6 separate regions of the Homo sapiens genome follow, and all the other regions are reported to be linked to region 6. The links are microRNA targets in miRTarBase. Many come from high-throughput screens and were not tested one by one. Region 6 holds a microRNA gene; each other region holds the end of a gene's coding sequence. Distances are from middle to middle.

Region 1 (4,000 bases), not on the chromosome of region 6:
GAGGAAGGCTTGCCAGGCAGCCCGAAGACTGTTGTGAAAATGGGGCTGCTTTTGCAAGGGAAGCTCTTTTACTCCCCATTCCTGTCCTCCAGAGGCCCCCCTTTTCCCTGCCGTGTTATTGGTGTCAACCCTGGGGTAAGTGGCTGGCTGGACTCACCCCTGCTCCCCGTACACCTGTGCCTGTGACTGGCGGTCCAAGCTCCCCACACACACATCTTGCTGGTGCCTTTCCCTGAAGTCACCACCCAGGGGCTGGCTGTCATCAGCCCATTCTTGTCCCAGCAGGGTACCGAGGGAATGATAAAACAGAATGTGTTTGAATTACACACAAAAATGTTCCCTGCAGCAGGTCATAAACTCTGTGAACTAATGAAGCTGACAAACAGAGCTGGAGTACGTTTCCCCTCACCCTTCCTTTCCTCCTAGCTCAGCAAGGGGTGCTCAGGTTCAGGATGTTGTTTGTTGATTCAGGCTCAACCAGGCTCCGCAAGAAAACCTTATCAGGAGATTTTATTTTCATGAACAGGTGCCAGTCTTCCCGCCAGCCACGTCCAGCTGGCGTCAATAAGCATCTTTGGGGATGTCCTGCCTCCTCCAGGACCAGCCATGAGTGGCTCTTATGGCCAAAGGCGGTACTGCAGGCCAAGCAAACGGCTCTGGGCTGGAATAGCCCTACCTGAGTGCCCTGTTTGACTCCGCCACTATCTGCCATGTGAGTTGGGCAAATTGTTGACCACCTCTGAGCCTTGAAAAAGTAGGAGGTTACTTTGTTAGAGCAAAATAATAAAATTTAATTTTAAAAAAGAAAACGTAGGAGGTTGGTTTGGATGAGCTAGTCTCTTCCGGTTGAAAAGTCTGACTCGGTGAGCATCCTGACGACTCCATTTCCTTCTGGCTCCCCACCCAGTCTTACACTTGGCTGCCATCAATACCACATGCTCTGAAGGGAGAGTGCTTGCATGGACTTTGCCAAATCCTGTCTGCTCCATCTCAGTTGAATGGAAAAGGAGGGAGGTGGGGCTGGTAGATAGGTGCTTTTGGTGCTAGTATCCACCAGGTTTTGTGTGCATCCCGTAATGAGCCCACTTCCTGAAAACATTTAAAGAAAAAAGATATCAGCTGGAGATGGCAGTGCGCACATGTAATCCCAGCTACTCGGGAGGTTGAGGTGGGAGGATCACTCAAACCTGGGAGTTTGAGGCCAGCCTGGGCAACACAGCAAGACCCTGTCTTTTTTTTAAAAAAAAAAAAAAAAAAAAGGCTGGGTGTGGTGGCTCACGCCTGTAATCCCAGCACTTTGAGAGGCCAAGATGGGTGGGTCACTAGAGGTCAGGAGTTCAAGACCAGCCTGGCCAACATGGCAAAACCCCAGCTCTACTAAAAATACAAAAATTAGCCAGGCGTGGTAGCAGTCGCCTGTAATCCCAGCTACTTGGGAGGCTGAGGCAGGAAATTTGCTTGAACTGGAGAGGAAGAGGTTGTGGTGAGCTGGGATCACGCCACTGCACTACAGCCTGGGTGATGGAATGAGACTCGTCTCAAAAAACAAACAAACAAAAAAAACACTTTGGGAGGTCAGAGCAGGAGGATCGCTTGAGACCAGGACTTCAAGACCAGCCTGGGCAACATAGAGACCCTGTCTCTACAGAAAAATTAAGGAAAGGGAAAAAAAAAAAGCCAAGTGTGGTGGATCATGCCTGTAATCCCAACACTTTGGAAGGCCAAGATGGGAGAATCACTTGAGAGGCCACCCTGGGCCACATAAGGAGACCTCCATCTCTACAAAAAATTTAAAACTTAGCTGGACATGGTGGCACAGGCCTGTAGTCCAAGCCACTCAGGAGGCAGAGGTGGGAGGATCCCTTGAGCCAAGAAGCTCAAGGTTGCAGTAAGCTGTGATCACACCACTGCACTCCAGCCTGGGTGACAGAGACCTTGTCCCCCCTTCCCAAAAAAAAAAAAGGTATCAATGAATGTTCTGCATAGGAAACTTTCATCTCACCTGCTCCTAGGCAAGAATAGCAATCATCTCTGGGCAGAATTCCTTCAATAAATATTTACTGAGTATCTACTGTGTGCCAGAGACTGGGCAGAGGTAAGACCTACCAAGGGCTGAGAATTCCACCCCAAGGAGGGCCCCTCCCTGAGGCCTTAAGAAGGGAGAAGACTGGCTGGGTGCGGTGGCTCATGCCTGTAATCCCAGCACTTTGGGAGGCTGAGACAGGTGGATCACGAGGTCAAGATATCGAGACCATCCTGGCCAACAAGGTGAAACCCCATCTCTGCTAAAAATACAAAAATTAGGCCGGGCGCAGTGGCTCACGCCTGTAATCCCAGCACTTTGGGAGGCCAAGGCGGGTGGATCACGAGGTCAGGAGATCGAGACCATCCTGGCTAACACGGTGAAACCTCGTCTCTATTAAAAATACAAACATTAGCCGGGCGTCGTGGCGGGTGCCTGTAGTCCCAGCTATTCAGGAGGCTGAGGCAGGAGAATGGCGTGAACCTGGGAGGCGGAGCTTCCAGTGAGCTGAGATCGCACCACTGCACTCCAACCCGGGTGACAGAGCGAGACACTGTCTCAGAAAAAAAATACAAAAATTAGCTGGGTGCAGTGGTGCGTGCCTGTAATCCCAGCTACTCGGGAGGCTGAGGCAGGAGAATCACTTGAATCTGAGGCGGAGGTTGTAGTGAGCCGAGATCGCACCACTGTACTCCAGCCTGGCGACAGAGCGAGACTCCATCTCAAAAAGAAAAAAAGGGAGAAGACCAATGAGGGAAGATGGGGTGGCCCATCTGATTCAGCAATCCCCATCTAGCTGATTGCCTGCGAACCTCTAGAGAAGGTCTGGGGCAGTTCCTGGGCAGGGAGGGATGGAGCTTACTTCCATCCTCCCTGTTTCTGGGCTCCTATTTGCTGCTCTGTCCAGCAAGAGGCAGAGAAACCCCTTGGGCACCTAGGGGTAAGATGCACTTCCCAGGCTGCAGAGGCTCCCAAGAGAAGCCAAAGGGCTTTGGTGAGGGTCCTGGGGCCTAGGTACCCAGACTAAGTTAGAAACTCCTGCCTCAGAGGGTGTACATAGGGCAGGGGCTGACCACAAGGACCTGAAACCTCAGAGGTGAGGCCTGCTTCCAATGGGGCTGCAGCTGGCTGGAGTGTGACGGCCACTCTGCCTTCATCCGGGCCCAGGGCTTAAGATAATGGTCCTTGCCTTTGTCAGCCTAAATAACAGAGAGGCTCTCTCAAAGAAAATGATATCTATTTGGGCATAGGGCATTGCAATGGTAGTATCCATGCCATAGTAAACTATATGGGTATTCAGGGAGGTAAAGGAAGACAGGCTTTAAGGGAAAAAATAGGATTACATAATTGTTTTGAAATATTTATCCTTAGGTAGAAGGATTAATAACAAGGGTGACCGCTCAAGGTTGGACAAGCGGTTGCTGGGCAGATGGCCATTCAAAAGTATGTTTTGTGCAAGGTTGTGACGCCCTTTGTGCAAGGTTGTGGTTTTTGCAGAGTCTTTGTGATAGTTTTCATTATCAGGTATTTATGCACGAGAACCCTCTTGTCATGGGTTTCTTGGGCTGTGTCCGGGTTTTTTTGTTCTGTTTTTTAACACAAGTGACTCCATTTAGATTAACAACTTTTGCACTCTCAGGACACTCACAGCCTAAGCCACCTCTACCCCTACGTTGTCAAATGCGATGGGAGTGTGGCTAGACCACCTCCTTCCCTGGTGCTTTGTTTCCTGTAACCACGAGCAATCTATCACACACCCGCTTCCTGATAATCTCCGAGAAGGAATCGGCCGAAGGGCTTCAGCATCCAGAAAGCCCCGAAAGCGCCACAATCAAGGCTCCTCCTCGGGCTCCCCCGTGCTGCCCCGGGCGCGCGCCATCCACCCGGCTGACAAAAAGCACCAGGACATGACCCAGTACCCTTTGATTTCTGTCCAGAGGTGGCGGACCCACCTCGGGGCTGGGATGGAGGGCGGGT
Region 2 (4,108 bases), 120 Mb from region 6:
CCCATGTACATATACCTTCTAATCTCCAGACATGTTAGTAAAGGACTTGAATTTTCTGGCTTTTCCACTTTAATTCCAACCTCTAGGAGTACAGCAAGAGCCTTTTCCTCCTCCCAAACACCCATCCCTTGCTTTGTAGAGCCTCATGGACCAGCACTGCCACTAAGGCTGCGCTCCTGCCCCTTTGGCCCTCTTCAGGGAATCCTGCTATCCTAAGGGCCGTGCACACTGTAGGGAACAAATCCTTTGCTGAATTCTCAATGCATGAGACCAAAGAGAAGATAGTAATACCCAAGGGTTGGAATAGAACCAGATAACTTAAGGGTTATTTGGGAATAGAGTATCTTGAGCCATTGATGCTGGACCTACATACTTACTTATTTCAGAACTCCCTTCTCCTGGTTTTTCTATTCTTTAAGTGAGGAGGACATTTTTATTGATCATGTCATTATTCATTTAAAACTCAATAAATGCCTATCAATAGATAATTGGTTAAATTATGGGACATCCATCTTCTGATCCTTCCAGATAAGATCGGTAACCTTTACTGGATGGCTCATAGCATCTGGGTTATTACCTACCAAGAACAGTGTTTTATGCAGTTATTTAATATCTGTCTCCTTACTAGACTGTAAGCCCAATCAAGGAAGCATGAAGGTGGCTACTGTATGCTTAGAACCATGATTGGTATGGTAGATGTTTAATGTTTGAATGTATAATAAATGCATACAATGGAATACTATGCAGACATTTATTTATTTATTTATTTATTTAGAGACAGAGTCTCGCTCTATCACCAGGCTGGAGTGCAGTGGCTCAATCTTGGCTCACTGCAACCTCTGCCGCTGGGTTCAAGCAGTTCTCCTGCCTCAGCCTCCCGAGTAGGTGGACTACAGGCGCCTGCCACCGTGCCTGGCTGATTTTTGTATTTTCAATAGAGATGAGGTTTCACCATATTGGCCAGGCTGGTCTCGAACTCCTGACCTTGTGATCTACCTGCCTTGGCCTCCCAAAGTGGTAGGATTACAGGCGTGAGCCACCACACCCAGCCTATGCAGCCATTTAAAGCATGACAATGTGGAATTGTTTATTGACATGTAAGGTTACCCATAATATAATGTTAAATTTTAAAAATCAAATAATAAAATAGTAGATATGCTATGATCATGTTTTAACAAAAAAGAATAGCCATACATACAGATAGATACATCAAAATGTTAATAGTGGTAAGATTATGAATGACTTTTTCTTTTATTGGTTAACTCTTTGTATTATCTGAAATTTTACAACAACAGCATTTATTTGACCTGTTTTTTTTATTTTATTTTATTTTTTAGAGACCAGGTCTCACTCTGTCACCCATACTGGAGGATAGTGGCACAATGACAGCTCACTACAGCTTTGAACTCCTGGGCTCAATTGATCCTCTTGTCTCAGCTTCCTGAGTAGCTGGGACTATAGGTGCACACCACCACACTTGGCTTTTTGGTTTTTTTTTTTTTTTCTGAGACAAAGTGTTGCTCTGCCACCCAGGCTGGAGTGCAGTGGTGTGATCTCTGCTCACTGTAACCTCCACCTCTTGGGCTCAAGCAATTCTCCTGCCTCAGCCTCCCAAGTAGCTGGGACTACAGGCGTGTGCCACCAGGCCCAGGTAATTTTTTGTATTTTTACAAAACTGTAGAGATGGGGTTTCACCATGTTGGCCAGGGTGGTCTCGAACTCCTGACCTCAGGTGATCTGGCCACCTCGGCCTCCCAAAGTGCTGGGATTACAGGCGTGAGCCACCAGGCTAATTTTAAAAATAATGTTTTTTGAGATGGGATCTCACTATGTTGCCCAGGCTGGTCTCAAACTCCTGGCCTCAAGTGATCCTCCTGCTTCAGCCTCCCCTATAACTGGGATTACAGTTACAAGTCATCACACCTGGCTGATTTATTCTTTCCTGATTTTAAAATTATTTCCATTTTGAGAAAAACCAAGTAGATATTAAAACAACCTTTTTTCTGTCACAAAACTTCACTTAAACAACTAATTTTGGCATACAGTTTTCAACTGGACAATATTAGAAACAACATGGATTTCCGAATGCAAATTGAAATGTTGGATACATTCATCTCGTTGCTATTTCTGATTAAAGTAGACCTTTAACAAAATGATCATTATGAAACCTTCATTTCTATACAAAATTTCTTATTTTTTATATCCATAATTACTATTAGACTCTTCCTTCTCCTCTTATTTACATTCTTACCCAGGATATGGAGAATGGAATAGACCTTAATTTCTTATCCTATTTTTTAGCTGAAGACCAAAAAAGTTAAAAGGAAGTAGACTTCTCAAATTTTTTTTAAAAAAAGAAATGTCAGTGGCTGCTACATTTAAAGTACCTTCCTTACATGAGGGAAGTTTGCAAAGGTGAAGGTCTTCCCCAAGAAAATACCAAAGCATTACCACAAATCTAAAACTATATCCATTTTAAACAAACACCTTTAATAGACTGGTTATAAAACTATAATTGGACAATTTTAAGGCCAGTTTATACTTTTCCCTTTTCAAAGACATTAATTAATATAAATAAGACACTATCAGATGATATTCTCTATACAGAGCAAGAATATACTCTTGGATATCTCAAAAGAGAAGTATAATTGCACTTATTTCATACAACAATTAGCATAATAACGGAAATGGAAAATATTTTTGTATATAAATTCCATTTCTTAATTAAGTAAAATTAAAGTTTCATTAAGAGTCAGTTAAAAAAAATAGGGCATATACTGTCTGTATATGGCTACCTGTCTTTTAGTAACATGAATTTTGTTTTTTTGTTTTTGAGATGGCGTCTTGCTCTGTCGCCCAGGCTGGAGTGCAATAGCACGATCTCAGCTCACTGCAACCTCCACCTCCCAGGTTCAAGCGATTCTCCTGCCTCAGCCTCCCAAGTAGCTGGGATTATAGGTACCCACCACCACACCCGGCTAATTTTTGTATTTTTAGTAGAGGCCAGGTTTCACCATGTTGGCCAGGCTGGTCTCAAACTTCTAACCTCAGGTGATCCGCCCACCTGGGCCTCCCAAAGTGCTGGGATTACAGGCGTGAGCCACCATGCCCGGCCTAATTTTGTTAATCTTGCCAGTTTCAAGCCATTGACACAAAAACATCAGCACCATATTAAGAAGTCACACTCTGACCTATAAAATGTGACAGCCCCAGGAGAACCATTACACCATTATTCATTTTCAGTAAAAAGTCTAATAGAACAGTGACAAATATTGTGCCTTAGATCCTTAATCATACGATACAAATCATTTACAATATAAATTGTAAAGATGAACATGTGCTGGCACAGCTAGGGTTTACATACTCTTTGGAAGCTCAAAAAGTTCAAGAATGTCTTATCAGTCTTCATTTCAGATCTAGTAGCATAAAAGCTGGGTTTTCTAAATAGGATTTCCACAAATTGGAGAAGCGTGACATTGTAGCACCATCAATAACTCTGTGATCAGCTGACCAGCTCACATTCATTATCTGTGCCTTATATACTTCTCCTTTCTGGTTAAATCGGGGAATGGCCTAGAAATGAAAAAAAAAAAAAAAAAAAAAAAAAAAAGAACAAAGAGTAAACCTTCACTTGTTCAGAGCTCAAGCTCTAACAATGGTGTAAGATCAGGCAAACCCTTCTTCCTGTACAGTACAGAAAAAAATGGGCATCCCCAATGACTTTTGAAAATGCTGATTCCTACTCTTCCCATCTTTGAGTATATGCCTGGAGCTTACAGAAGTTCTCCAAGGTACTTCCTATCCCTTGTACAATTCCCATACCTACATTCATTAACTTTCATCTCAGATTTCAAATATTTAATAATTATTTACTGTATACCCACTATGTGCCAAGTATTCTTCTAGGCTCTGGGGAGAGACAGACAATTAAATAAGGCTTCCTCACTGAAGGCAGTGAGGAAACAAGCCATTATCAAGTTCCCCTGACCACTGAGTTGGCCAGGAAGAAGACAGGACAACAACATGCTTGTGTTCTTTGTGGATATTAAAGCTAGTAAGCACCACATCAAACAGGCTGGAAGCTCTATGACACTGATGCGGCCAAGGT
Region 3 (4,108 bases), not on the chromosome of region 6:
AGTAGAACTAAGGAATTTCAGCCGACAGCCCCAGCCAACTTTGAGACACATACATGAGGCCAGTCAAGGTCAATCAGCCTCCAACCAATCTGCTCACTAACCACAAAGGTGTGTGGAGTCCCAACTGGCACCCATGGAGCAGTGGTGGATCACGCCAGCAGAGCTCTGCCCAGACTGCCAGAGCATAGGATTATAAGCAAATAAAGGGTGTTGCTATAAGCCGTGATTTGAGGTGGGTTTTTATTTTTATTTTTTTTTAAGCCATGATTTGAGATGGGTTTTTATTTTTATTTTTTTTGAGACAGAGTCTCACTCTGTCGCCCAGGCTGGAGTGAAGTGGCACAATCTCGGCTCACTGCAGCCTCTGCCTCCTGGGTTCAAGCAATTCTCCCACCTCAGCCTCCCAAGTAGCTGGAATTACGGGCGTGCACCACCACGCCCAGCTAATTTTTTGTGTTTTTAGTAGAGACGGGGTTTCACCCTGTTGGCCAGGCTGGTCTCAAATTCCTGACCTCAAGTGATCCACCCGCTTCGGCTTCCCAAAGTGCTGGGATTATAGGCGTGAGCCACTGTGCCTGGCCAGGTTTTTATTTTTTATTTACTTATTTATTTTTTTGAGTTGGAGTCTCGCTCTGTTGCCCAGGCTGGAGTGCAATGGCACTATCTTGGCTCACTGCAGCCTCCACCTTGTAAGTTCAAGCGATTCTCCCACCTCAGCCTCCCAAGTAGCTGGGATTACAGGTGCTTGCCACCACATCCAGCTAATTTTTCTATTTTTTAATAGAGACATGGTTTCACCATGTTGACCAGGCTGGTCTTGACCTCCTGGACTCAAGTGATCCGCCTGCCTCAGCCTCCCAAAGTGCTGGGATTACAGGCATGAGCCACTGCACCCCACCCTTGAGGTGGGTTTTTAGACAACAATAGAGAGCTGACACACTACTCTGTGGCAGGAATTGTGCCAGGTGAAGAAAATACCCTGGATACTAAGACATAGCCCCTGTTCTGCAGATGCTTAGAGTCTACTTAGGCAAACAGACATGTAACAGGGGAATTTCAAAGTAAATGTCATCAGTGCTCTAACGGGGCATAGGGAGGACTTAAGGATCCATGTAAATTTAGAGAAGAGGCATCAATCCTAGAACTGGGGAGCTGGTGAAGGCTTCTCAGAGGAGATAATTTCTAAAGGGAGTTTACATGAAGAAAGAATTTTCCAGGCAACAGTAAGACAGAACATTCTTCTTTCCACGAAGAAGAAAGTACATGTGCAAGGGCTGGAGGGAGTGAGATAGGGTCCCCAGGAAGGTAGGGGTAGTCTTTTTAATTGCTGTGTAAAGATGTCAGGGGTGGGCTGGAGGAGTAGCTAAGGGAAAGCTCTCATGGCCTTTGGCTTTTGAACTTAGGGTGATGGGAACCAAAGAAGGAAATCCTCTCTCCCTTCTTTCCTTCCTTCCTCACAGCCAAGAGGAGATCGTGTGCAATAGATACAGAGAAATGCTTCTCTGGTGCTTAGGTTGGCTGAAGGGAAGTTCTATTATGCCAGGGTCCAAGATAATGGGTAAAGCAGGCAAGAAGAAGATACCATTTCTCAAAAGGAGATACCATTTCTCGAAAGGTATTCCTTCTTCTTTTGTCACTTAATGAATACCTGAGCACAGAAAGCATTTAAGACTCATCTTTTAAAGATGCTATAAAAAATTTTTTTAAGCCAGTGGTAAGGTTTCCCACTTTATTAGTTTTGTGGCCTTGGGCATATGACTAACCACTTTACAAGTCAGTTTCCTCATTTGTAAAATGGAGATAATGACCGTATTGACTTCACAGGTAAATAAGGACAAATGGCGTAAAGTCTTAGCATACAGCCTGGCTCAGAATAAACCCTCAATATAAGGTCCTTAAATGGGGAAAAGTTGAGGGGAGTAACATGGGATTTAGCGTTAAACCTGTGTTTACATTCAGCCTATTTCACCTAGTAGTTCCTGCAGCCGTGTGAATTTAGAGACCATTTTAAAACTTGCTCAGGCTTAGTTTCCACATCTGAAAAATGTGGACGTTAATATCTACCTTGCAAGGTTGCATTGAGGGTTAAAGGATATCATATATATTAAATGCACAGAGCCTGCCATACAGTACAAATGCACACCCACACAGAGGTGATAGTATTTCTCAAATGTATATCAACAGTATTACTGTTAGACATTCTCTGTCACTCCAAAATCCTATTCTCTGACTAAAGCTACAAATCAGAAAAGTTGGATTACCAGAAATATATATATATATATATATATATATATATATGTCTATAACATATTTAGCACGGTAGGTCCATTCCACCAGTACCTATACATTACGATAACCTAATGAAAAGAAATGGCTGTGGTACAATTCTCATATTTTATTTTGTTAATGCATGATAAAAAATTAACGTCATCATTCAGATCCATTATTTGGAATGAAGAATTTAGTATTTCCTGACTGCCTAATTTGGCACTTTGAGGAATTTCCTCTGCACGCTGAGCCCCAAAATGCACTATTTTCTAGACCAAAAATGAAAACGTGCGTATATACAAGTGAGCTGAAAAGTTACAACACAAGATGATCATTTTGGTGAAAAATAATCCCCCCAAATAAGCAGCATGTCATGTCCTTAGAATATGTTACACTAGAAAGCTAGTAAAAATTCAGGCTAAGGAGGCAATTTAGAGTTCAAGTTTTATCACATATCAGCAAAGTTTTAGCCTTCCCTTAAAAACAGACACCTTCAAAGTGAAATCTTGCCAGAAGGGTTGATTTTTAATTATGTGTATATACAAACTTCTCTATTTTAACATTCAACATATTCAGGATTAATTCTAGAAAGATGCTATAGCTGATTTATAAAACAAAATGATTTAGGATCAGAAAGAAAATAGGGGCACACAATTTCATGTAGTCTCTCCCTAACTACCCCCAACCATAGCATCACAAGGTTTTTTTTTTTCCTAATGCCACAATTGAAACCTGTATTAACTTAAAAGTTGACACTAAAGGCAGGAATTAAGAAGTCATTTTTTATGGCTTTTAAGCACTTGAATGCTTTAGAACCCCCTTGAAAATGCTAGTGAACAGGTCTTATTCCTTTAAATGTTGCTTTGATTTGAATCTTGGTGAAATCTAGATTCCCTATTAAATAGCTGCATGCTAATTTTGGAGAAAGTACAATTTAAAACCTTTAACAACTACTCTATTGACTCTGAAGAAGGGGACTTTAGCATGTCGCTGTTTGGGCTAGAGAAGCATTTCAACACCTTTCTGCAAACTAAGATAAAAAACAATGAATGAGAGCTACAAATAGAAATCTAGTAAGGCAGTTCTATCATGTAGGAAAATGGTTTCCCAAATGTTTTCTACACTGACATTTTTTAAAAAAGATATGATACCCGGTTCTTCCACATTCAGTGTATAAAACTCAACTTTAGACATGTATGTGCGGAGAAGACTCGTATGTCCAAAACCATCCATTTGCATGGCAATCTTGTCTTTGCATTGCTTTGTGTCATTCTGGCTTCCCTCACCCACAGGCCACTGGAGGGCTGGGAGGCCCAGGAGCTCAGCACTCTAACTCCTCCATGACTTCCATGACAATCGTCCGTGGGCCCGTCAGAATCAGATTGCTCACGGTCCGGTAGTCTACATGCAGGACATTGAGCCCGTTGACAGAGACGACAAACTGACAGACCTAAAGGAAAGATGCAAAGAAAGAGCATCTATTATAGCGCCTGGTTTTGCACAAAGCTTTAATAAAGACAGTGTGTAGCCCTAACAGGTAACTTCATTCTTAAAATATCCAAATGTATCCAGCTGACGACTCCAATTCAATAATTTCCAAGGAGCTACACATTTTCTGGAAGGCAGTATAATTTAAAAAAAAAAAAATCGTTTTAGTGTTTTACAAAATTTGGCTTAAATCCTAACTCAGAGACATACTAGCTTTAGCTAGTATTTAAATACTAGCTAGGTATTTAAATTTCTGAGCTTTATTTCCCTCAACCCTAAAATAAGAATTAATAATAATAATAAGAGTAATACCTACCTTATAAGACTGTTGTAAGAATTAATGACATATATA
Region 4 (4,089 bases), not on the chromosome of region 6:
AGTGCTCAGTGCTCCTTCTCGGGGTGTTCCTCCCATCGACACTGACATCTATGATTAATGTTTATTTCATGAAAGGACATTCATGACAATGTATAAACATCATCCAGAATCCCACCACTCCAATCTATTTTGGTTTACTCTCTTTCATCCAGGTCTCTTCAGTGTGAATACATAACATCATGTGGTTGAAATCATAGCCTGGATCCAGGCTCAATTCCTTTTCTGGGTGAAATGGTTTGACATTGTGTCATCCATGATAGCATCATGGTAGCACCGTAGTTTACTGGAGTTACTTGAATTTTAGGTTGTTTCCAGTTTTTCACTATCCCAGCGCTGAATTAAACAACATTGTCCTTTACAACCTTTTTTTCTTGTGGATTACTCTCACTTTTCTACTAACTTCTCAGGAGTGGAATTCCTGGGTCAAAGAGCATGGTGCTTTTTTTAGCTCTGCATCCTTGAGTCAGATGGGTTGTATCAATGTATGTACTAAGCCCGTTTTCCCGTGTTCCTGTGCCTTCTAGGTTACCGAGGAGACGAGCCTCGTCCTGCAGACCCTCGGATACACGTGCACCTGTCGAGGAATAATCAACGTGAAAGGAAAGGGGGACCTGAAGACGTACTTTGTAAACACAGAAATGTCAAGGTCCCTTTCCCAGAGCAACGTGGCATCCTGAAGAGTCACCTTCATTTTGGCAAGAAGACTGTATTTTCAGGAAGGTATCACACACTTTCTGACTGCAACTTCTGTCCCTTGTTTTTGATGTGCGTGCTGTCTGTCCTATGGAGCCTCTGCAGACTCGTTCTCGTGACCCAGTGGCATACCGTTTGGTGTCTGATGTGTGCCCAGATCGTTCTGCCACTTGCACTGTGCTTGCTCCTAAGCAAAAGGGAAAAGGAGCGCGCGTGATAGAAGAAAAGCACTGGGAGAACTAACAGAGGAGAAAGGTGAAACACACACACATTCTTAAGGCAATAAAACTAGGGGGTGTATATTATCTTCTGGTGCATGTTCTTTTCTGGAAAATATGGTAGCTCGCCAACCGCATCTGCTCATCTGATATTCAAACACACAGTATTCGTGAATAAGTTGATTCTGTCCCCCACGTGGACTCTGTGCTCACCCATTGTCTCATTGCCAGTGGTGTCCAAGGGCCCCCGTTGGGACCCACGGCTCTCGTCCCTCTGCTCCGTGTGTCTCATGCCAGCAGCACGTCGCCATCCGTCACCAGAATTAGTCCTCACAGCCTAGGACCAGTTTTGTATCAAACTCGTCTGATGTTTTGATGCCATTTGTCTTTTGTAAAGTTAATTCATTAAAAGTTTTATGTACTTTGATTTACAGTGCCTGTATCTTTTATTTTCCTGTCTTCTTTCTCCTGTGGTTTGCTCCAGAATTAAGGTTTGTTTTCCATCCATTCTCCCTTTTGACACAGTTGTTTCAGAAAGAGCTCTCCAGAAGCCAATATTGAGATGTAATTCAGATTAGGACACAGTGTGTGACGCAGATAACTGGTTACTCAGCTCCCTGGAAAGCAGGCAAGCATGTTGAATGTATCTAGTGGTCTGATTTTAATTTGGGCATCTCTAGAGAACGCTTTCAGGGAAAAATACTTTAATAGTAAAAAGATTCTCTGCGAGCAACAGTGCCCCCTCCGTCCACTACGCTCCTGTCTCCAAGAATGTTTTGCTAGAGCTAACAGACATAGACTGCAAAAGAATAATTTGGAATCAGCTATGCAAATCAGTCTCACAATAGCGTGAGCTAACTGAGAGAAGTACTAAGACCCACAAACTGCCTGTTAAGTCTGAGAAGGCTAAAGAAGACACACAGCCAACGTTCATGCATTTTTAAAGACAGAAGGCCTTGAAGAATTTGTTCTTGTAAATCCAACACAAGTTGTTTGGTACTTTTAACATAAAGAAATCATACTTTGCCAAATAGTGAAAAGTAGAGCAATCGTGTATAAGCTAATGTTTAAAAGCAAAACTGCAAATTGTAGCCCAGTTGGTCAAACTTGTTTTCTTTTTATAACTCATGGCAGGCATCTGTAAGAAGTAGAGAACCCAGATGATCTCTTAGGAAGCCTTTTATTCGTGGGAACTCGAACTTGAAGCACAAGTTCCTGGTTTGAATCCTGGCTCTGATTTTTTACTGGCTGTGTGACTTTGAACACATCTCTTAGTCCCTCTTAGGAGTACTTTCCTTATTGGCAACTTATGGACTCGCTAGTGATTAAACGAGGCAATGACTGTGAGCGAGCCTGGCAGGTGCCCCGTGGTACATTCACAGCACGGGCACAGCTGCTGTGCCAGGACTGTGACTCATTCCCAGTAAAAGGCACTTATCGAAGCTGATAACCGTCCTTCATCACCGAAGTGTGAGTAGAGCATGACTTATTTAGTATTCTGCCTCAATGGGGAATTTTTTGATCCTGTAATCACAACTCAGCATTGGCCTTAATATACCTAAATCTCCAAAAACAGTGATTAAAGCAAGAGAATTATTACAAGGGCTTTTCTCTTTCCTCTAACTCATTCTTCACGGATGCCGTAGCGTTTCCGTGAGCTCAAACTGGCCTTGGTGTAAAATGTGTAAGGATGAGCAGCAGGCGTGCCTCGTGGGTTCTTCCTCTGTTACATCCTGCTACACTCATCCGCAGGTCACCTTAGTTCACCTACCCTGAGTGAACACCCCCAGCTGGGTGGTCCACCAAGTTCTCATAAACAGAGTCCCTCCCATTCCCCCACGGGGTGCACCGAACTTGGGTTTGCGCTAAAAAGAACTCAAAAGGAGAACTGTGCTCTCCCAAAGCCATATCACCAGTCTTACCAAACAATAGGCTTTTAAAAGCATTGAGTCATTGTCAGAATCCACTATGGGAAGCTCTGTGTGTACCTGGTCCCTTCTAGGTGTGGTCCCATAGGAGCAGCCTTAGCATCCCCTGTGAACTTATCAAAAATGCAAATTCTCAGGCCCCAACCTGAAGGAGGACCCTGAATTTGAGATCCCCGGGGCTGGGGCCCAGCACAACTGCTGTTTAGTGAACAGGTTCTCCAGGTGATTCTGATCCCTGATCAAGCTTCAGACCTCCCTCCCTCCCCAGTGTTTTTGCAGGTGAGGAAACAGGGGCAGAGTAATTCAGGCACATGTGTTCAGAGTTCCACAGTTGATTAGCAGTTGAGGCCAGGCTAGAATGGAAAACTGCCTGTTCCTTGAATCTGAAAGAGCATTATTCCTGGTCAAAGCTCCTTAAAGTTCTGGGCAGCTAAAAGCATCCCTGTGAGCAAAAATGCCAGGCAGAAAACTGGCAGTGCACCTCTCATCAGCCCAGGTCCCAGTGCCATTGGCTTCAAGAAAAAAAAAAAATCTCTCCCCAATGCTCTCCTTAACCTTTAAGTCTTACAGGAAGCCTCTCATAGAAATTGCCTCCAGTCCAGTTTCCCAAAAACCCCAGTGTTTTACATATCTGTTTAGGAGTGTCTAAGTTTTGTCATCAATCCAGGATGTTATTCTTCCTTCCCAACTCACTGTGCTCCTAAAGGCAGCAACCATTCATCTTTCCTTTGCTCTGGATACACCGAATGACCAGGTAACATCATCAGGCCGGGTGCAGTGGCTCCTATAATCCCAATATTTTGGGAGGCCGAGGAGAGAGGATCACTTAAGCCCAGGAGTCTGAGACCAGCCTGGGCAACATAGCAAGACCCCCATCTCTGCAAAAAAATAAGAAAATTAGCTTGGCATGGTGGCACGTGCCTGTAGTCCCAGCTACATGGGAGGCTGAGGTGGGAGGATCACTTGAGCCCAGGAAGTCCAGAACGTAGTGAGCCTTGATTATACCACTGCACTCCAGCCTGGGTGACAGAGCGAGACTCTGTCTCAGAAAAAAAAAGAAAAAAAAGAAAAAGCAACATAATTGCCCAGTGATGAAAATTTGATAAACCAAAACAATCCATTAATATAAGAAGATATGATGTGTGATGGCTTTAACAAGCATTCATGCATTGGCTTTAAATGATAAACATTGGGATACCGAGAGAAATATACTTCATTTTCTCTTATGGCCTAACAAATGTGAGATCTTT
Region 5 (4,097 bases), not on the chromosome of region 6:
CAAAGATGAATCTACTGTCTTCTTCCTATAATGTATTCCAACTAATACATGAAGAAGGAATAACAGGACTAGCATATCATTTTGCAAGCTCCTAATGAAACAAATGATCTTGCCAGGCGTCAGCCAACTATGGCCCCTAGGCTACATCTGGCCTGCTTGATTTTGTAAAAAAAGTTTTATTGAAACTGAAAAAAAGGAGAATCCACTGTCGTGATTCAGGTACCCACCCTTGATGCATGACTTCCTAGGTAGTAGAAGCTGTGAGTGGGTGCAGAAGAGCCCTTCAGAAGAGGTTAAAGAATGGCAAATAGCATTTAGAAGTGTACCTCTGTTGAATTTATATTCTGTCTTGTTCCTTTCTGTCAATGCTCTGTTTTTCTGTGTTAATATAAATTGTCTGTTCTGTTAATCAAATGACAAAACCTCAGAGGAAGATTTAAAGCATATGTCTAAACTAATCACCCTCCCTTTACTCTGCTAGAAATAAGCCATTTAATACCAAAAGGAAATGAGTTATCCCTCCTATTTTTGAGATTTGAGTTCAACTTATCGGACCTTTAAAACATTGTCAGTGAAAATCTCAAGACTTGGAATTCATCTGTTTTCTAGTCATGATTTTTCTTTTTCTTTTCCTCCGTACATATTTTTTTTCCAGTTGAAATGTTAAGGCTTATAATGATACAGGCTGAGGATCCATAATCTGAAAATCCAAAATCCAAAATGGTCCAAAGTGGAAAACTTTTTGAGTGCCATGACTCCACAAGTGGAAAATTCCACACCTGACATTATGTGATGAATGCACAAAATTATTTACAAATATTACATAAATAGCCCTCAAGCTATGTGTATATAAACATAAATGAATTTTCTGTCTAGGCTTAAGTCGCATCCCTAAGATACTTCACTACATATGAATAAATATTCCAAAATCTAAAAATCAGAAACACTTCTGTTTCCAAATACAGGATATTCATCCTGTATTCCTTCTGGAACATAAGCCCTGAAAACTGCCAAAGGTGATGTATATATAGTCCCTAATAATTACATGATGATCAGTAATTCATAGCTTACTCACATTTCAAATGATCCTGCTTAGCTTATCGAATTATACTAAATTACACTAAAAATATACTATAGAATTACAGTAAAGTGGTAAGAATGCCTTGGATTTCTGCTTCTGACAAAGATAGAATAACATCCTAGATTTACCCTACTACCTGAACATACTCTGCCAGCTGAAACAACTAAACTCCAGACAAAGTAGATGAAACAGTGTTACTTGACATACTGTTTCAGGCAATGAAGGACAAAGGTCGGTCCCTGAAAGATGGGAAACAAATGAGGTAAACCTTCCTATCATCCTATCTTATTGCCTGGAGAAAAGTTTCAGGCCTTGGAGCAGGTAGAGGAAACCTAGGTAAAAGACCATTGATCTCTTGAATTGAGGAGATGGAGCTCCAGGTCAAGAGAAGTCAAAAAGGCAGAATACTGGAGAGAAGAGAGCTGCGTGTAGAGAAAACTCTGGAGATATGTGAAGAGTCGCCGTCAAGTATTCAGTTAAGTACTGGTCAGTGCACGCAAGTGACAAAACTACCCGAACTTGGGGAAAAACCCACCTGAAAATAATAAAGAAAACAGTGCCCATGACTCACACATGGCTGGGAATAGTGTCGATTATCAACAGCCAAAGTGGAAAACGTCCTAATTCATGAACGGTGGTACTAAGTACTAACGAGGATCTTTCCTCAGTAATAAACTAAATTTAACTTAGTCTAAAAGCTGCTCTGGCTTAATCTAACAAAATTTAAAAGCAAGATTCTAAATGATCAAATTGTGTTCAAGTAACTTGATAGTTTTCAGTTAGCTATGTCACTGAAAACAAACTATCAAGTTAGTTTTCAGCTACATAGCTCAAAAACATAAGAATGCAAAAATATGCATTGCCAAACAAAGGAAAATGTACAGTATTTTCTGCCTAATTAAAAATCATCAGGCATTTAGAGAGGCAGAAAAATATAACCCATAATGAGAAAAATAAATCACTTGAAACTCATTCACAATGACAGATAACAGAATTAGTAGATTTTAAGAAGCATTAAAACAGTTGTTACAACTGTATCCATTGGTTGAAGATGTTAGATGAGAGATTAAGTACGTTAGAGACATGAAATATGGGGGACAAAAGACCCAAACTAAATTTATAGAAATAAAAACTAAGTTATCTGAGATTAAAAAGTCCTGTCTAGGATTATGGCAGATTAGATCATTTAGAAAAAAAAGATTCATGAACTTGAAGATGTAGCAAGAAAAACTATCCAAAATGAAATACAAAAAAGAATGAAATAAAATAAACAGATAAGTAAAATGTGGGACCATTTGCAAGTAATTGAAAAACTTGAAAATGCGGAGGGTCACAGAAAAAAAAATATTGGTCATTTTCCCCCACCCAAATTTGATGAAAATATAAATACATAGATCTAAGAAGCTCCACAAATTCCAAACACAAGACACTTGAAAAATAACCATACCTTGGCATATTATAATCAAATTAGAACCAGTAATAAGGAAAGTCTTAACAATCAGAAAAATAGCGTGTATCACACTTAAGGACAGAGACAAGTATTATAGTATGTGTTTCTGATGAAACAGAGAGAAGACAGTGAAGCAGTATTTTTTAATTATTGAAAGAAACATTGTCATCTCAACCTTGCTTTTTGCATCAATAAATTGTTTTTGAAAAGTCATTAAAATTATTTAAATAAACTGTGATTTGGTTATCAGTGGGGTGCTAAGCAGACATTAAAATTACAATATATGCGTATTTATATATAGTTAAATATAACAGTGAAAATAAATCCACAATATATTGTTGACTGGAAAGAAAGTTTAAGTAATGTGTACAAAAGAAACCACATTTTTGGTTCAAAATAAAAAGAAACAACTGATGTACATACATAAGCATGCCCAGAAAAATATTTAGAAGGATATATAGAAAGTTTCTCCAAGTGACTATCTCTGGCTAGTAGAATTCCTAAACTCTTTTTGATATTTGTTTGTTGTAAGGAGCATGCATTAATTTGACAATTTTTGAAATAGTAAAGCTATCTTTGGGAAAAATACTTTGTAAGAAAATTATATTACTTCTCTTAGTAATGCATTTTAATGTTTCCTATACCTTTCAATCAGAAATTTATTTCAATTATGGGCTATTGCCCATTGGTGAGAAAGGAGAATTAAAAAAAAACTCATTGGCTTTTATTTTTCTTCTAACGTGTTCCAGAACACATTCATGCTTAAATTTTTATATTTCCCTAAGTATTAGGTATTGTGAATTTGTAATCTTGTTATCAGGCTCAATTTTCAAGCTGGGTCTTATTAATTTTTAGTATATGTGCTGCCGAGGTGAGCACATTAATTTTTTACATTTTAGTAGTAAAGCATTTTTTAAGTTATTTGAAATACTGATTTTCATGGCCTTACATTTGGCATGCATAAGTGTAAGCTGTGAATAAGAGGTAAGCCACCATCCCATCAACAAATGATCAGGTCATCACCCTGCTGCCAAGTCCTTCTGTGTCCTCTGTGCATCTTGTTTTCTTAGAAGCCATCTTCAATAGGAGCCAAATCATTGAACTAGATCATGGTCCAGCTAGTTTATAGGTTCTCTCTTAGCACGGATCAATCCAAACAGTCTGATGGGATCATCATGAATGTTTTCCTCTACTGCCTGGCTTTCTGGGGAGAAACTGTCTACTAAGGTGGTCTTAGAAACGCTGGCATCTATTGCATGTAGTTGCTCATCTCCATCCTTGTCTGAGAAATGAGTATTCTGTTTCCTGGGCTTTCTACGCTTCCCCTTAACGCTGTGATCAAGTGAGGCGTAGCACATCTGTGTTTCATTGGTTGCCTAAAAGAAAGGGATGTTAATTTTTCATTGTTAGTCTGTTCTTTAGCTTGACTTCTGGAAATTTCTGTGGCGTATGAAAACCAAGTAACTTGTTTTCTAGGCCTCACCTACCTTGTTTTGCCAAATTTGTCAGTACAAAAAACAAAAACAAAAAACAGAACAGAAAACTATAGTCAGCCAACACTCTTGA
Region 6 (4,108 bases):
GTTCAGATTATTTTATTTTATTTTTGATACAGTCTCACTCTGTCACCCAGGCTGGAGTGCAGTGATGTGATCTTGGCTCACTACAACCTCCACCTCCCAGGTTCAAGTGATTCTCCCTCCTCAGCCTCCTGAGTAGCTGGGACTACAGGCACGCGCCACTGACTTGGCTAATTCTTGTATTTTTAGTAGAGATGGGCTCTTGCCACGTTGACGAGGCTGGTCTCGAACTCCTGGCCACAAAGGATCCATCCACCTCTGCCTCCCAGAGTGCTGAGATTACAGGCATGAGCTACCATGCCCAGCCTCAGACTTAGTTTAAAAGAAAAAGAATTAAAGTGATTATACCTGAGACGAGTTTCCACAAACATTTGTTTAAAATTTCACACTGGAAAGTTTTTTTTTTTTTTGGAAAGTTTTATAAGCCATGTCATTGTCTCCTCTTCTTTTTTTTTTTTTTTTTTTTTTTTGAGATGGAGTTTCACTCTTGTTTCCTAGGCTGGAGTGTAGTGGCACGATCTCAGCTCACTGCAATCTCCGCCTCCCAGGTTCAAGTGATTCTCCTGCCTCAGCCTCCTGAGTAGTTGGGATTAGAGGCATGTGCCACCACGCCCGGCTAATTTTATATATATATATTTTTTAGTAGAGACGGGGTTTCTCCATGTTGGTCAGGCTGGTCTCAAACTCCCGACCTCAAGTGATCCGCCCGCCTCAGCCTCCCAAAGTGCTGGGATTACAGGCGTGAGCCACTGTGCCCGGCTACTCTTCTTTTCACTATTTAGAGAGCAAGATGTCTAGGGAATTTCACTGAAGTGATTGAGGTGGGTGGGGATTCCTTGGTGGAATAGCCCTCTGGACTCTGAGGTGGATCATATGTATGTATTAGTAAATATAGCAAACTGGTTTAATTGATACATCCTGATAATTAAATGGTACATAGGTTGACTGGTCAGTAAGTTAGGTTAAATAAATATGAGCTTTGTCAGAAAAACACAAGTTTTCATTAGGTATATTTATGTTTTATTTACTCAATACATTTACATGGTAGTGTTACAGATTATCTTCTGTGTACCTGCCATTGCGTTGGTTGCGTGGTGTTAGTCGATTTCTGATATTGAAGTAGCACAGTCATACAGAATATTGGCCTAAAGAAATGACAGACAAACTCAGCTATATTGTCTGTCAATTCATAGGTCATTTTCCTGTATACCATTTCTGAATGATGACTTTAATCCTCTTCCATTATTGGATCTTTTTGGTGTTACAAAACTTGAATTTAAGAAAATTGATATTAATTCTTAATCATTTGTTAATTTTATAAAACAGGCTGAAAATCTTTTTTTCTGCTGGAATCAAATGAGAGTCCAAGTGACCACAATTTTCTGTCTTTCTTTATTATACCTTTATATTGTAGCAAGTTGGTAACCATCAAAAGTAACAGCATCTCCACTGGAAATTGGTACACAGTCCACATGGAGTTGCTGTTACACTTGATAACACCATTAAACATATAAGGAGATTCCTTTTGCTCATCATGGGAGCTGTACGATATCTCTAAGTATACTTGTTTCACAGAAGAAAGTCTCGATTTATTCATGTTCTAAATAAGTTTAGGGACTGGTAGATTTGAAACGCTGATGTTTTATTTTGATTTGAATTAATAGTGTCATTTGCATTTTAGATCATATTTGTATTTTATCAAGAAATAATTCCATTTCTGACTTTACTGTCATTGGTCATTTTTTGAATCTGTGAGATAATGCCATTAGAATTTGGGTTGAAATCTGTTACTAGTCAATAAAAACAGAAGAAATAATTTTTAGCATAAAAAAGATAAAATGTAGAAACACTGGCTACCTGGGAAGGAAAAGAAGTTGGTTAAATTTCTTTCATCATTTCAAACAGTTATAATCACTTTCATGCTATTAATGCTATAGTTAACATAGTGAAACTTAGCCCCTAACTTCTGGAAATTATGAGAAATTTAGTAAAAATAGCCAAGGAATTTCCAATATAATTTGAGTGTTAACTTTAGCTACCTCAAATTTTTTCTCAGTTAACAATAATAAACCTTTTGTTCAAAAAATTTATGTTCATTAAATAAAGAAAAATTTCTTCAAAATGGTTTTCTGTCAGCTTTAAAACATAAATCTAGGATTAAACTAAAAATAGAATTTCCCCTTCCAAATTTCACATTGTTCTAGAATTAAATTTAGTAAACAAATGTGAAACATTTAGCCTCTTACCTCATTCTTCTTCCAGTAAGTTACAGAAGAAAAGTTGTCTTAATAATCTTCAATATTTTTGCTTATAAAGGCAAAACACAGAAGACAGTGGGATGACAGCAGTCGTTTCTTTGTTGCTTTAGTAATCTTAATGCTGCTTAATGTCCATAACACGCTAAATAAGCCTCATTCCGGTTGATATCGAAGTTCAGAATGATTGGCTGATGTCATAGTTGCTCATGCTACCTAGTGGATTTTCACTGATTGAAACCTAAGAAGGGACACGTAATGCATGTGTTGAGATAAGGCCTTTGAGTAAAGTACAAGGTTTTATGATGGATTTATTGCTTTATGAAGTAAAGCATTAAGATGGAAGCATATAGATTACATACTGGTAAGTGGTTTCACCCACTTTTATCAGCAGTCGTTTATACTGATCTTTGGGTTATAGGTTAACTATGAGTTTGTGTTAAGTATACAATGTTAAAGAAATGAAGGTAGAATTCTTAAATTTCAGACAAATTAGGAATTTTCCTGCATTTTTTTCTGAAGAATATTAAATATCACAAGGAAATAGTTAGAAAATTGTTTAAAAATTTTTTTAGGAAACAGAAAATTATTTAAGAAATCTTTTAAGTATTATCTTGGTTTCATTATAAAAAAATTCCACTTCTAAGTATTTACCCAAAGGAAATAGGACTAATACCTCTTGTGTGAGGATATGTATATAAGATGTCCAATACAGTTGTTTATAAAGGAACATAATGATATACAAAAGAAGATGTAATTTAATTAGTTATAGAAGAATGAATATGTACCTGTTAAAAATGTCAGCTTAGCTCTTAATGGTTGCCTAGTTCCTTGTGTATGAAAATCAAATGAACATAACTTATCCAGTGTTTGGATTTTGTTAGATGTTTGTCACATCTCTATAATGAGTGTCTTTTGAGCACTTGTTCACAGTTAACTTTATATACTTTTTTCAAATTATCTTTTTAGATTTTGTTTGAACATTAAGTTTATCTTTGTTTTTATCATCATTATACCTAGCTCAAGTTTGTGGGTTATATGTCTGTTTATTTTTATTGCAATTTTTGTTTTCAAAGCTCTCTGTCACACTTTTTTTTTTTTTTTTGAGTTGGAGTCTTGCTCTTGTTCCCCAGGCTGGAGTGCAATGGTGGGATCTTGGCTAACTGCAACCTCTGCCTCCCAGCTTCAAGCGATTCTCCTTCTTCAGCCTCCCAAGTAGCTGGGATTACAGGCTTGCGCCACTATGCCTGGCTGATTTTTGTATATTTAGTAGAGATGGGGTTTCTTCATGTAGGTCAGGCTGGTCTCGAACTCCCCACCTCAGGTGATCCGCCCGCCTCGGCCTCCCAGAGTGCTGGGATTATAGGCGTGAACCACCGCGCCCGGCCTTTTTTTTTTTTGAGATGGAGTCTCACTCTGTTGCCAGGCTGGAGTGCAGTGGTGCAATCTCGGCTCACTGCATCTTCTGCCTCCTGGGTTCAAGTGATCCTCCTGCCTCAGCACCCCCCAAGTAGCTGAGACTATAGTCACGCACCACCATACCTGGGTAATTTTTGTATTTTTGTAGAGACCGGGTTTTGCCATGTTGCCCAGGCTGGTCTTGAAGTCCTTAGCTCAAATGATCCACCTATCTCAGCCTTCCAAAGTGCTAGGATTACAGGTGTGAGCCACCGTGCCCGCCCAAAATTAATTTATTCAATTGACAAAAATTGCTTATATTATGTACAACATGTTTTGAAATATGTATGCATTGTGGAATGGCTAAATCTAGCTAATTAACATGTATTTGTTGGGTTTTTCTTTACTCTCTTATTTTAAAATTAACTTTATTGTTTTAAAAATACAAATAATTTATC

The links. The annotated mature microRNA hsa-miR-215-3p reads UCUGUCAUUUCUUUAGGCCAAUA and lies in region 6 at 1,136-1,158, opposite strand. An mRNA with a match to its seed (bases 2 to 7 or 8) in the 3' UTR can be bound and repressed. Matches are read on the target gene's strand: a 7mer-m8 pairs with bases 2 to 8, a 7mer-A1 pairs with bases 2 to 7 and ends in A, and an 8mer does both.
Region 1: the mRNA of SLC16A5 is a reported target of hsa-miR-215-3p. The part of its 3' UTR that is shown has no 7-base or 8-base seed match.
Region 2: miRTarBase lists DBT as a target of hsa-miR-215-3p. Seed matches in the 3' UTR shown: 7mer-A1 at 2,003-2,009 and 7mer-A1 at 1,352-1,358.
Region 3: the mRNA of DEPTOR is a reported target of hsa-miR-215-3p. The part of its 3' UTR that is shown has no 7-base or 8-base seed match.
Region 4: miRTarBase lists ADCY2 as a target of hsa-miR-215-3p. Seed matches in the 3' UTR shown: 7mer-A1 at 3,864-3,870.
Region 5: miRTarBase lists TRAT1 as a target of hsa-miR-215-3p. The part of its 3' UTR that is shown has no 7-base or 8-base seed match.

What each region holds. Positions count from the first base shown.
Region 1 is chr17:75,105,354-75,109,353 of GRCh38, forward strand. SLC16A5 (solute carrier family 16 member 5) reads left to right here. Exons shown (of 7, transcript NM_004695.4): 7 at 527-809. The coding sequence ends at 680. Among named protein-coding and RNA genes, the nearest start is that of ARMC7, 2.6 kb to the right of the region's middle. RefSeq lists an enhancer at 1-337.
Region 2 is chr1:100,192,850-100,196,957 of GRCh38, forward strand. DBT (dihydrolipoamide branched chain transacylase E2) reads right to left here. Exons shown (of 11, transcript NM_001918.5): 11 at 1-3,573. The coding sequence ends at 3,406. It also overlaps the pseudogene RPL23AP90. Among named protein-coding and RNA genes, the nearest start is that of LRRC39, 17 kb to the left of the region's middle.
Region 3 is chr8:120,049,186-120,053,293 of GRCh38, reverse strand. It overlaps DEPTOR (DEP domain containing MTOR interacting protein), which reads right to left. Exons shown (of 9, transcript NM_022783.4): 9 at 2,376-3,718. The coding sequence ends at 3,590. Among named protein-coding and RNA genes, the nearest start is that of COL14A1, 74 kb to the left of the region's middle. RefSeq lists an enhancer at 3,969-4,108.
Region 4 is chr5:7,826,195-7,830,283 of GRCh38, forward strand. It overlaps ADCY2 (adenylate cyclase 2), which reads left to right. Exons shown (of 25, transcript NM_020546.3): 25 at 525-3,887. The coding sequence ends at 677. Among named protein-coding and RNA genes, the nearest start is that of CFAP90, 23 kb to the right of the region's middle.
Region 5 is chr3:108,853,430-108,857,526 of GRCh38, reverse strand. It overlaps TRAT1 (T cell receptor associated transmembrane adaptor 1), which reads right to left. Exons shown (of 6, transcript NM_016388.4): 6 at 2,522-3,907. The coding sequence ends at 3,650. Among named protein-coding and RNA genes, the nearest start is that of TRAT1, 33 kb to the right of the region's middle.
Region 6 is chr1:220,116,742-220,120,849 of GRCh38, forward strand. MIR215 (microRNA 215) reads right to left here and starts at 1,221; the gene lies at 1,112-1,221. The region is part of intron 12 of IARS2 (isoleucyl-tRNA synthetase 2, mitochondrial); the gene reads left to right. It overlaps MIR194-1 (microRNA 194-1), which reads right to left and starts at 1,500; the gene lies at 1,416-1,500. It overlaps LOC124904515 (a long non-coding RNA gene), which reads right to left and starts at 2,372. Exons shown (of 2, transcript XR_007066883.1): 1 at 2,244-2,372; 2 at 1,001-1,142.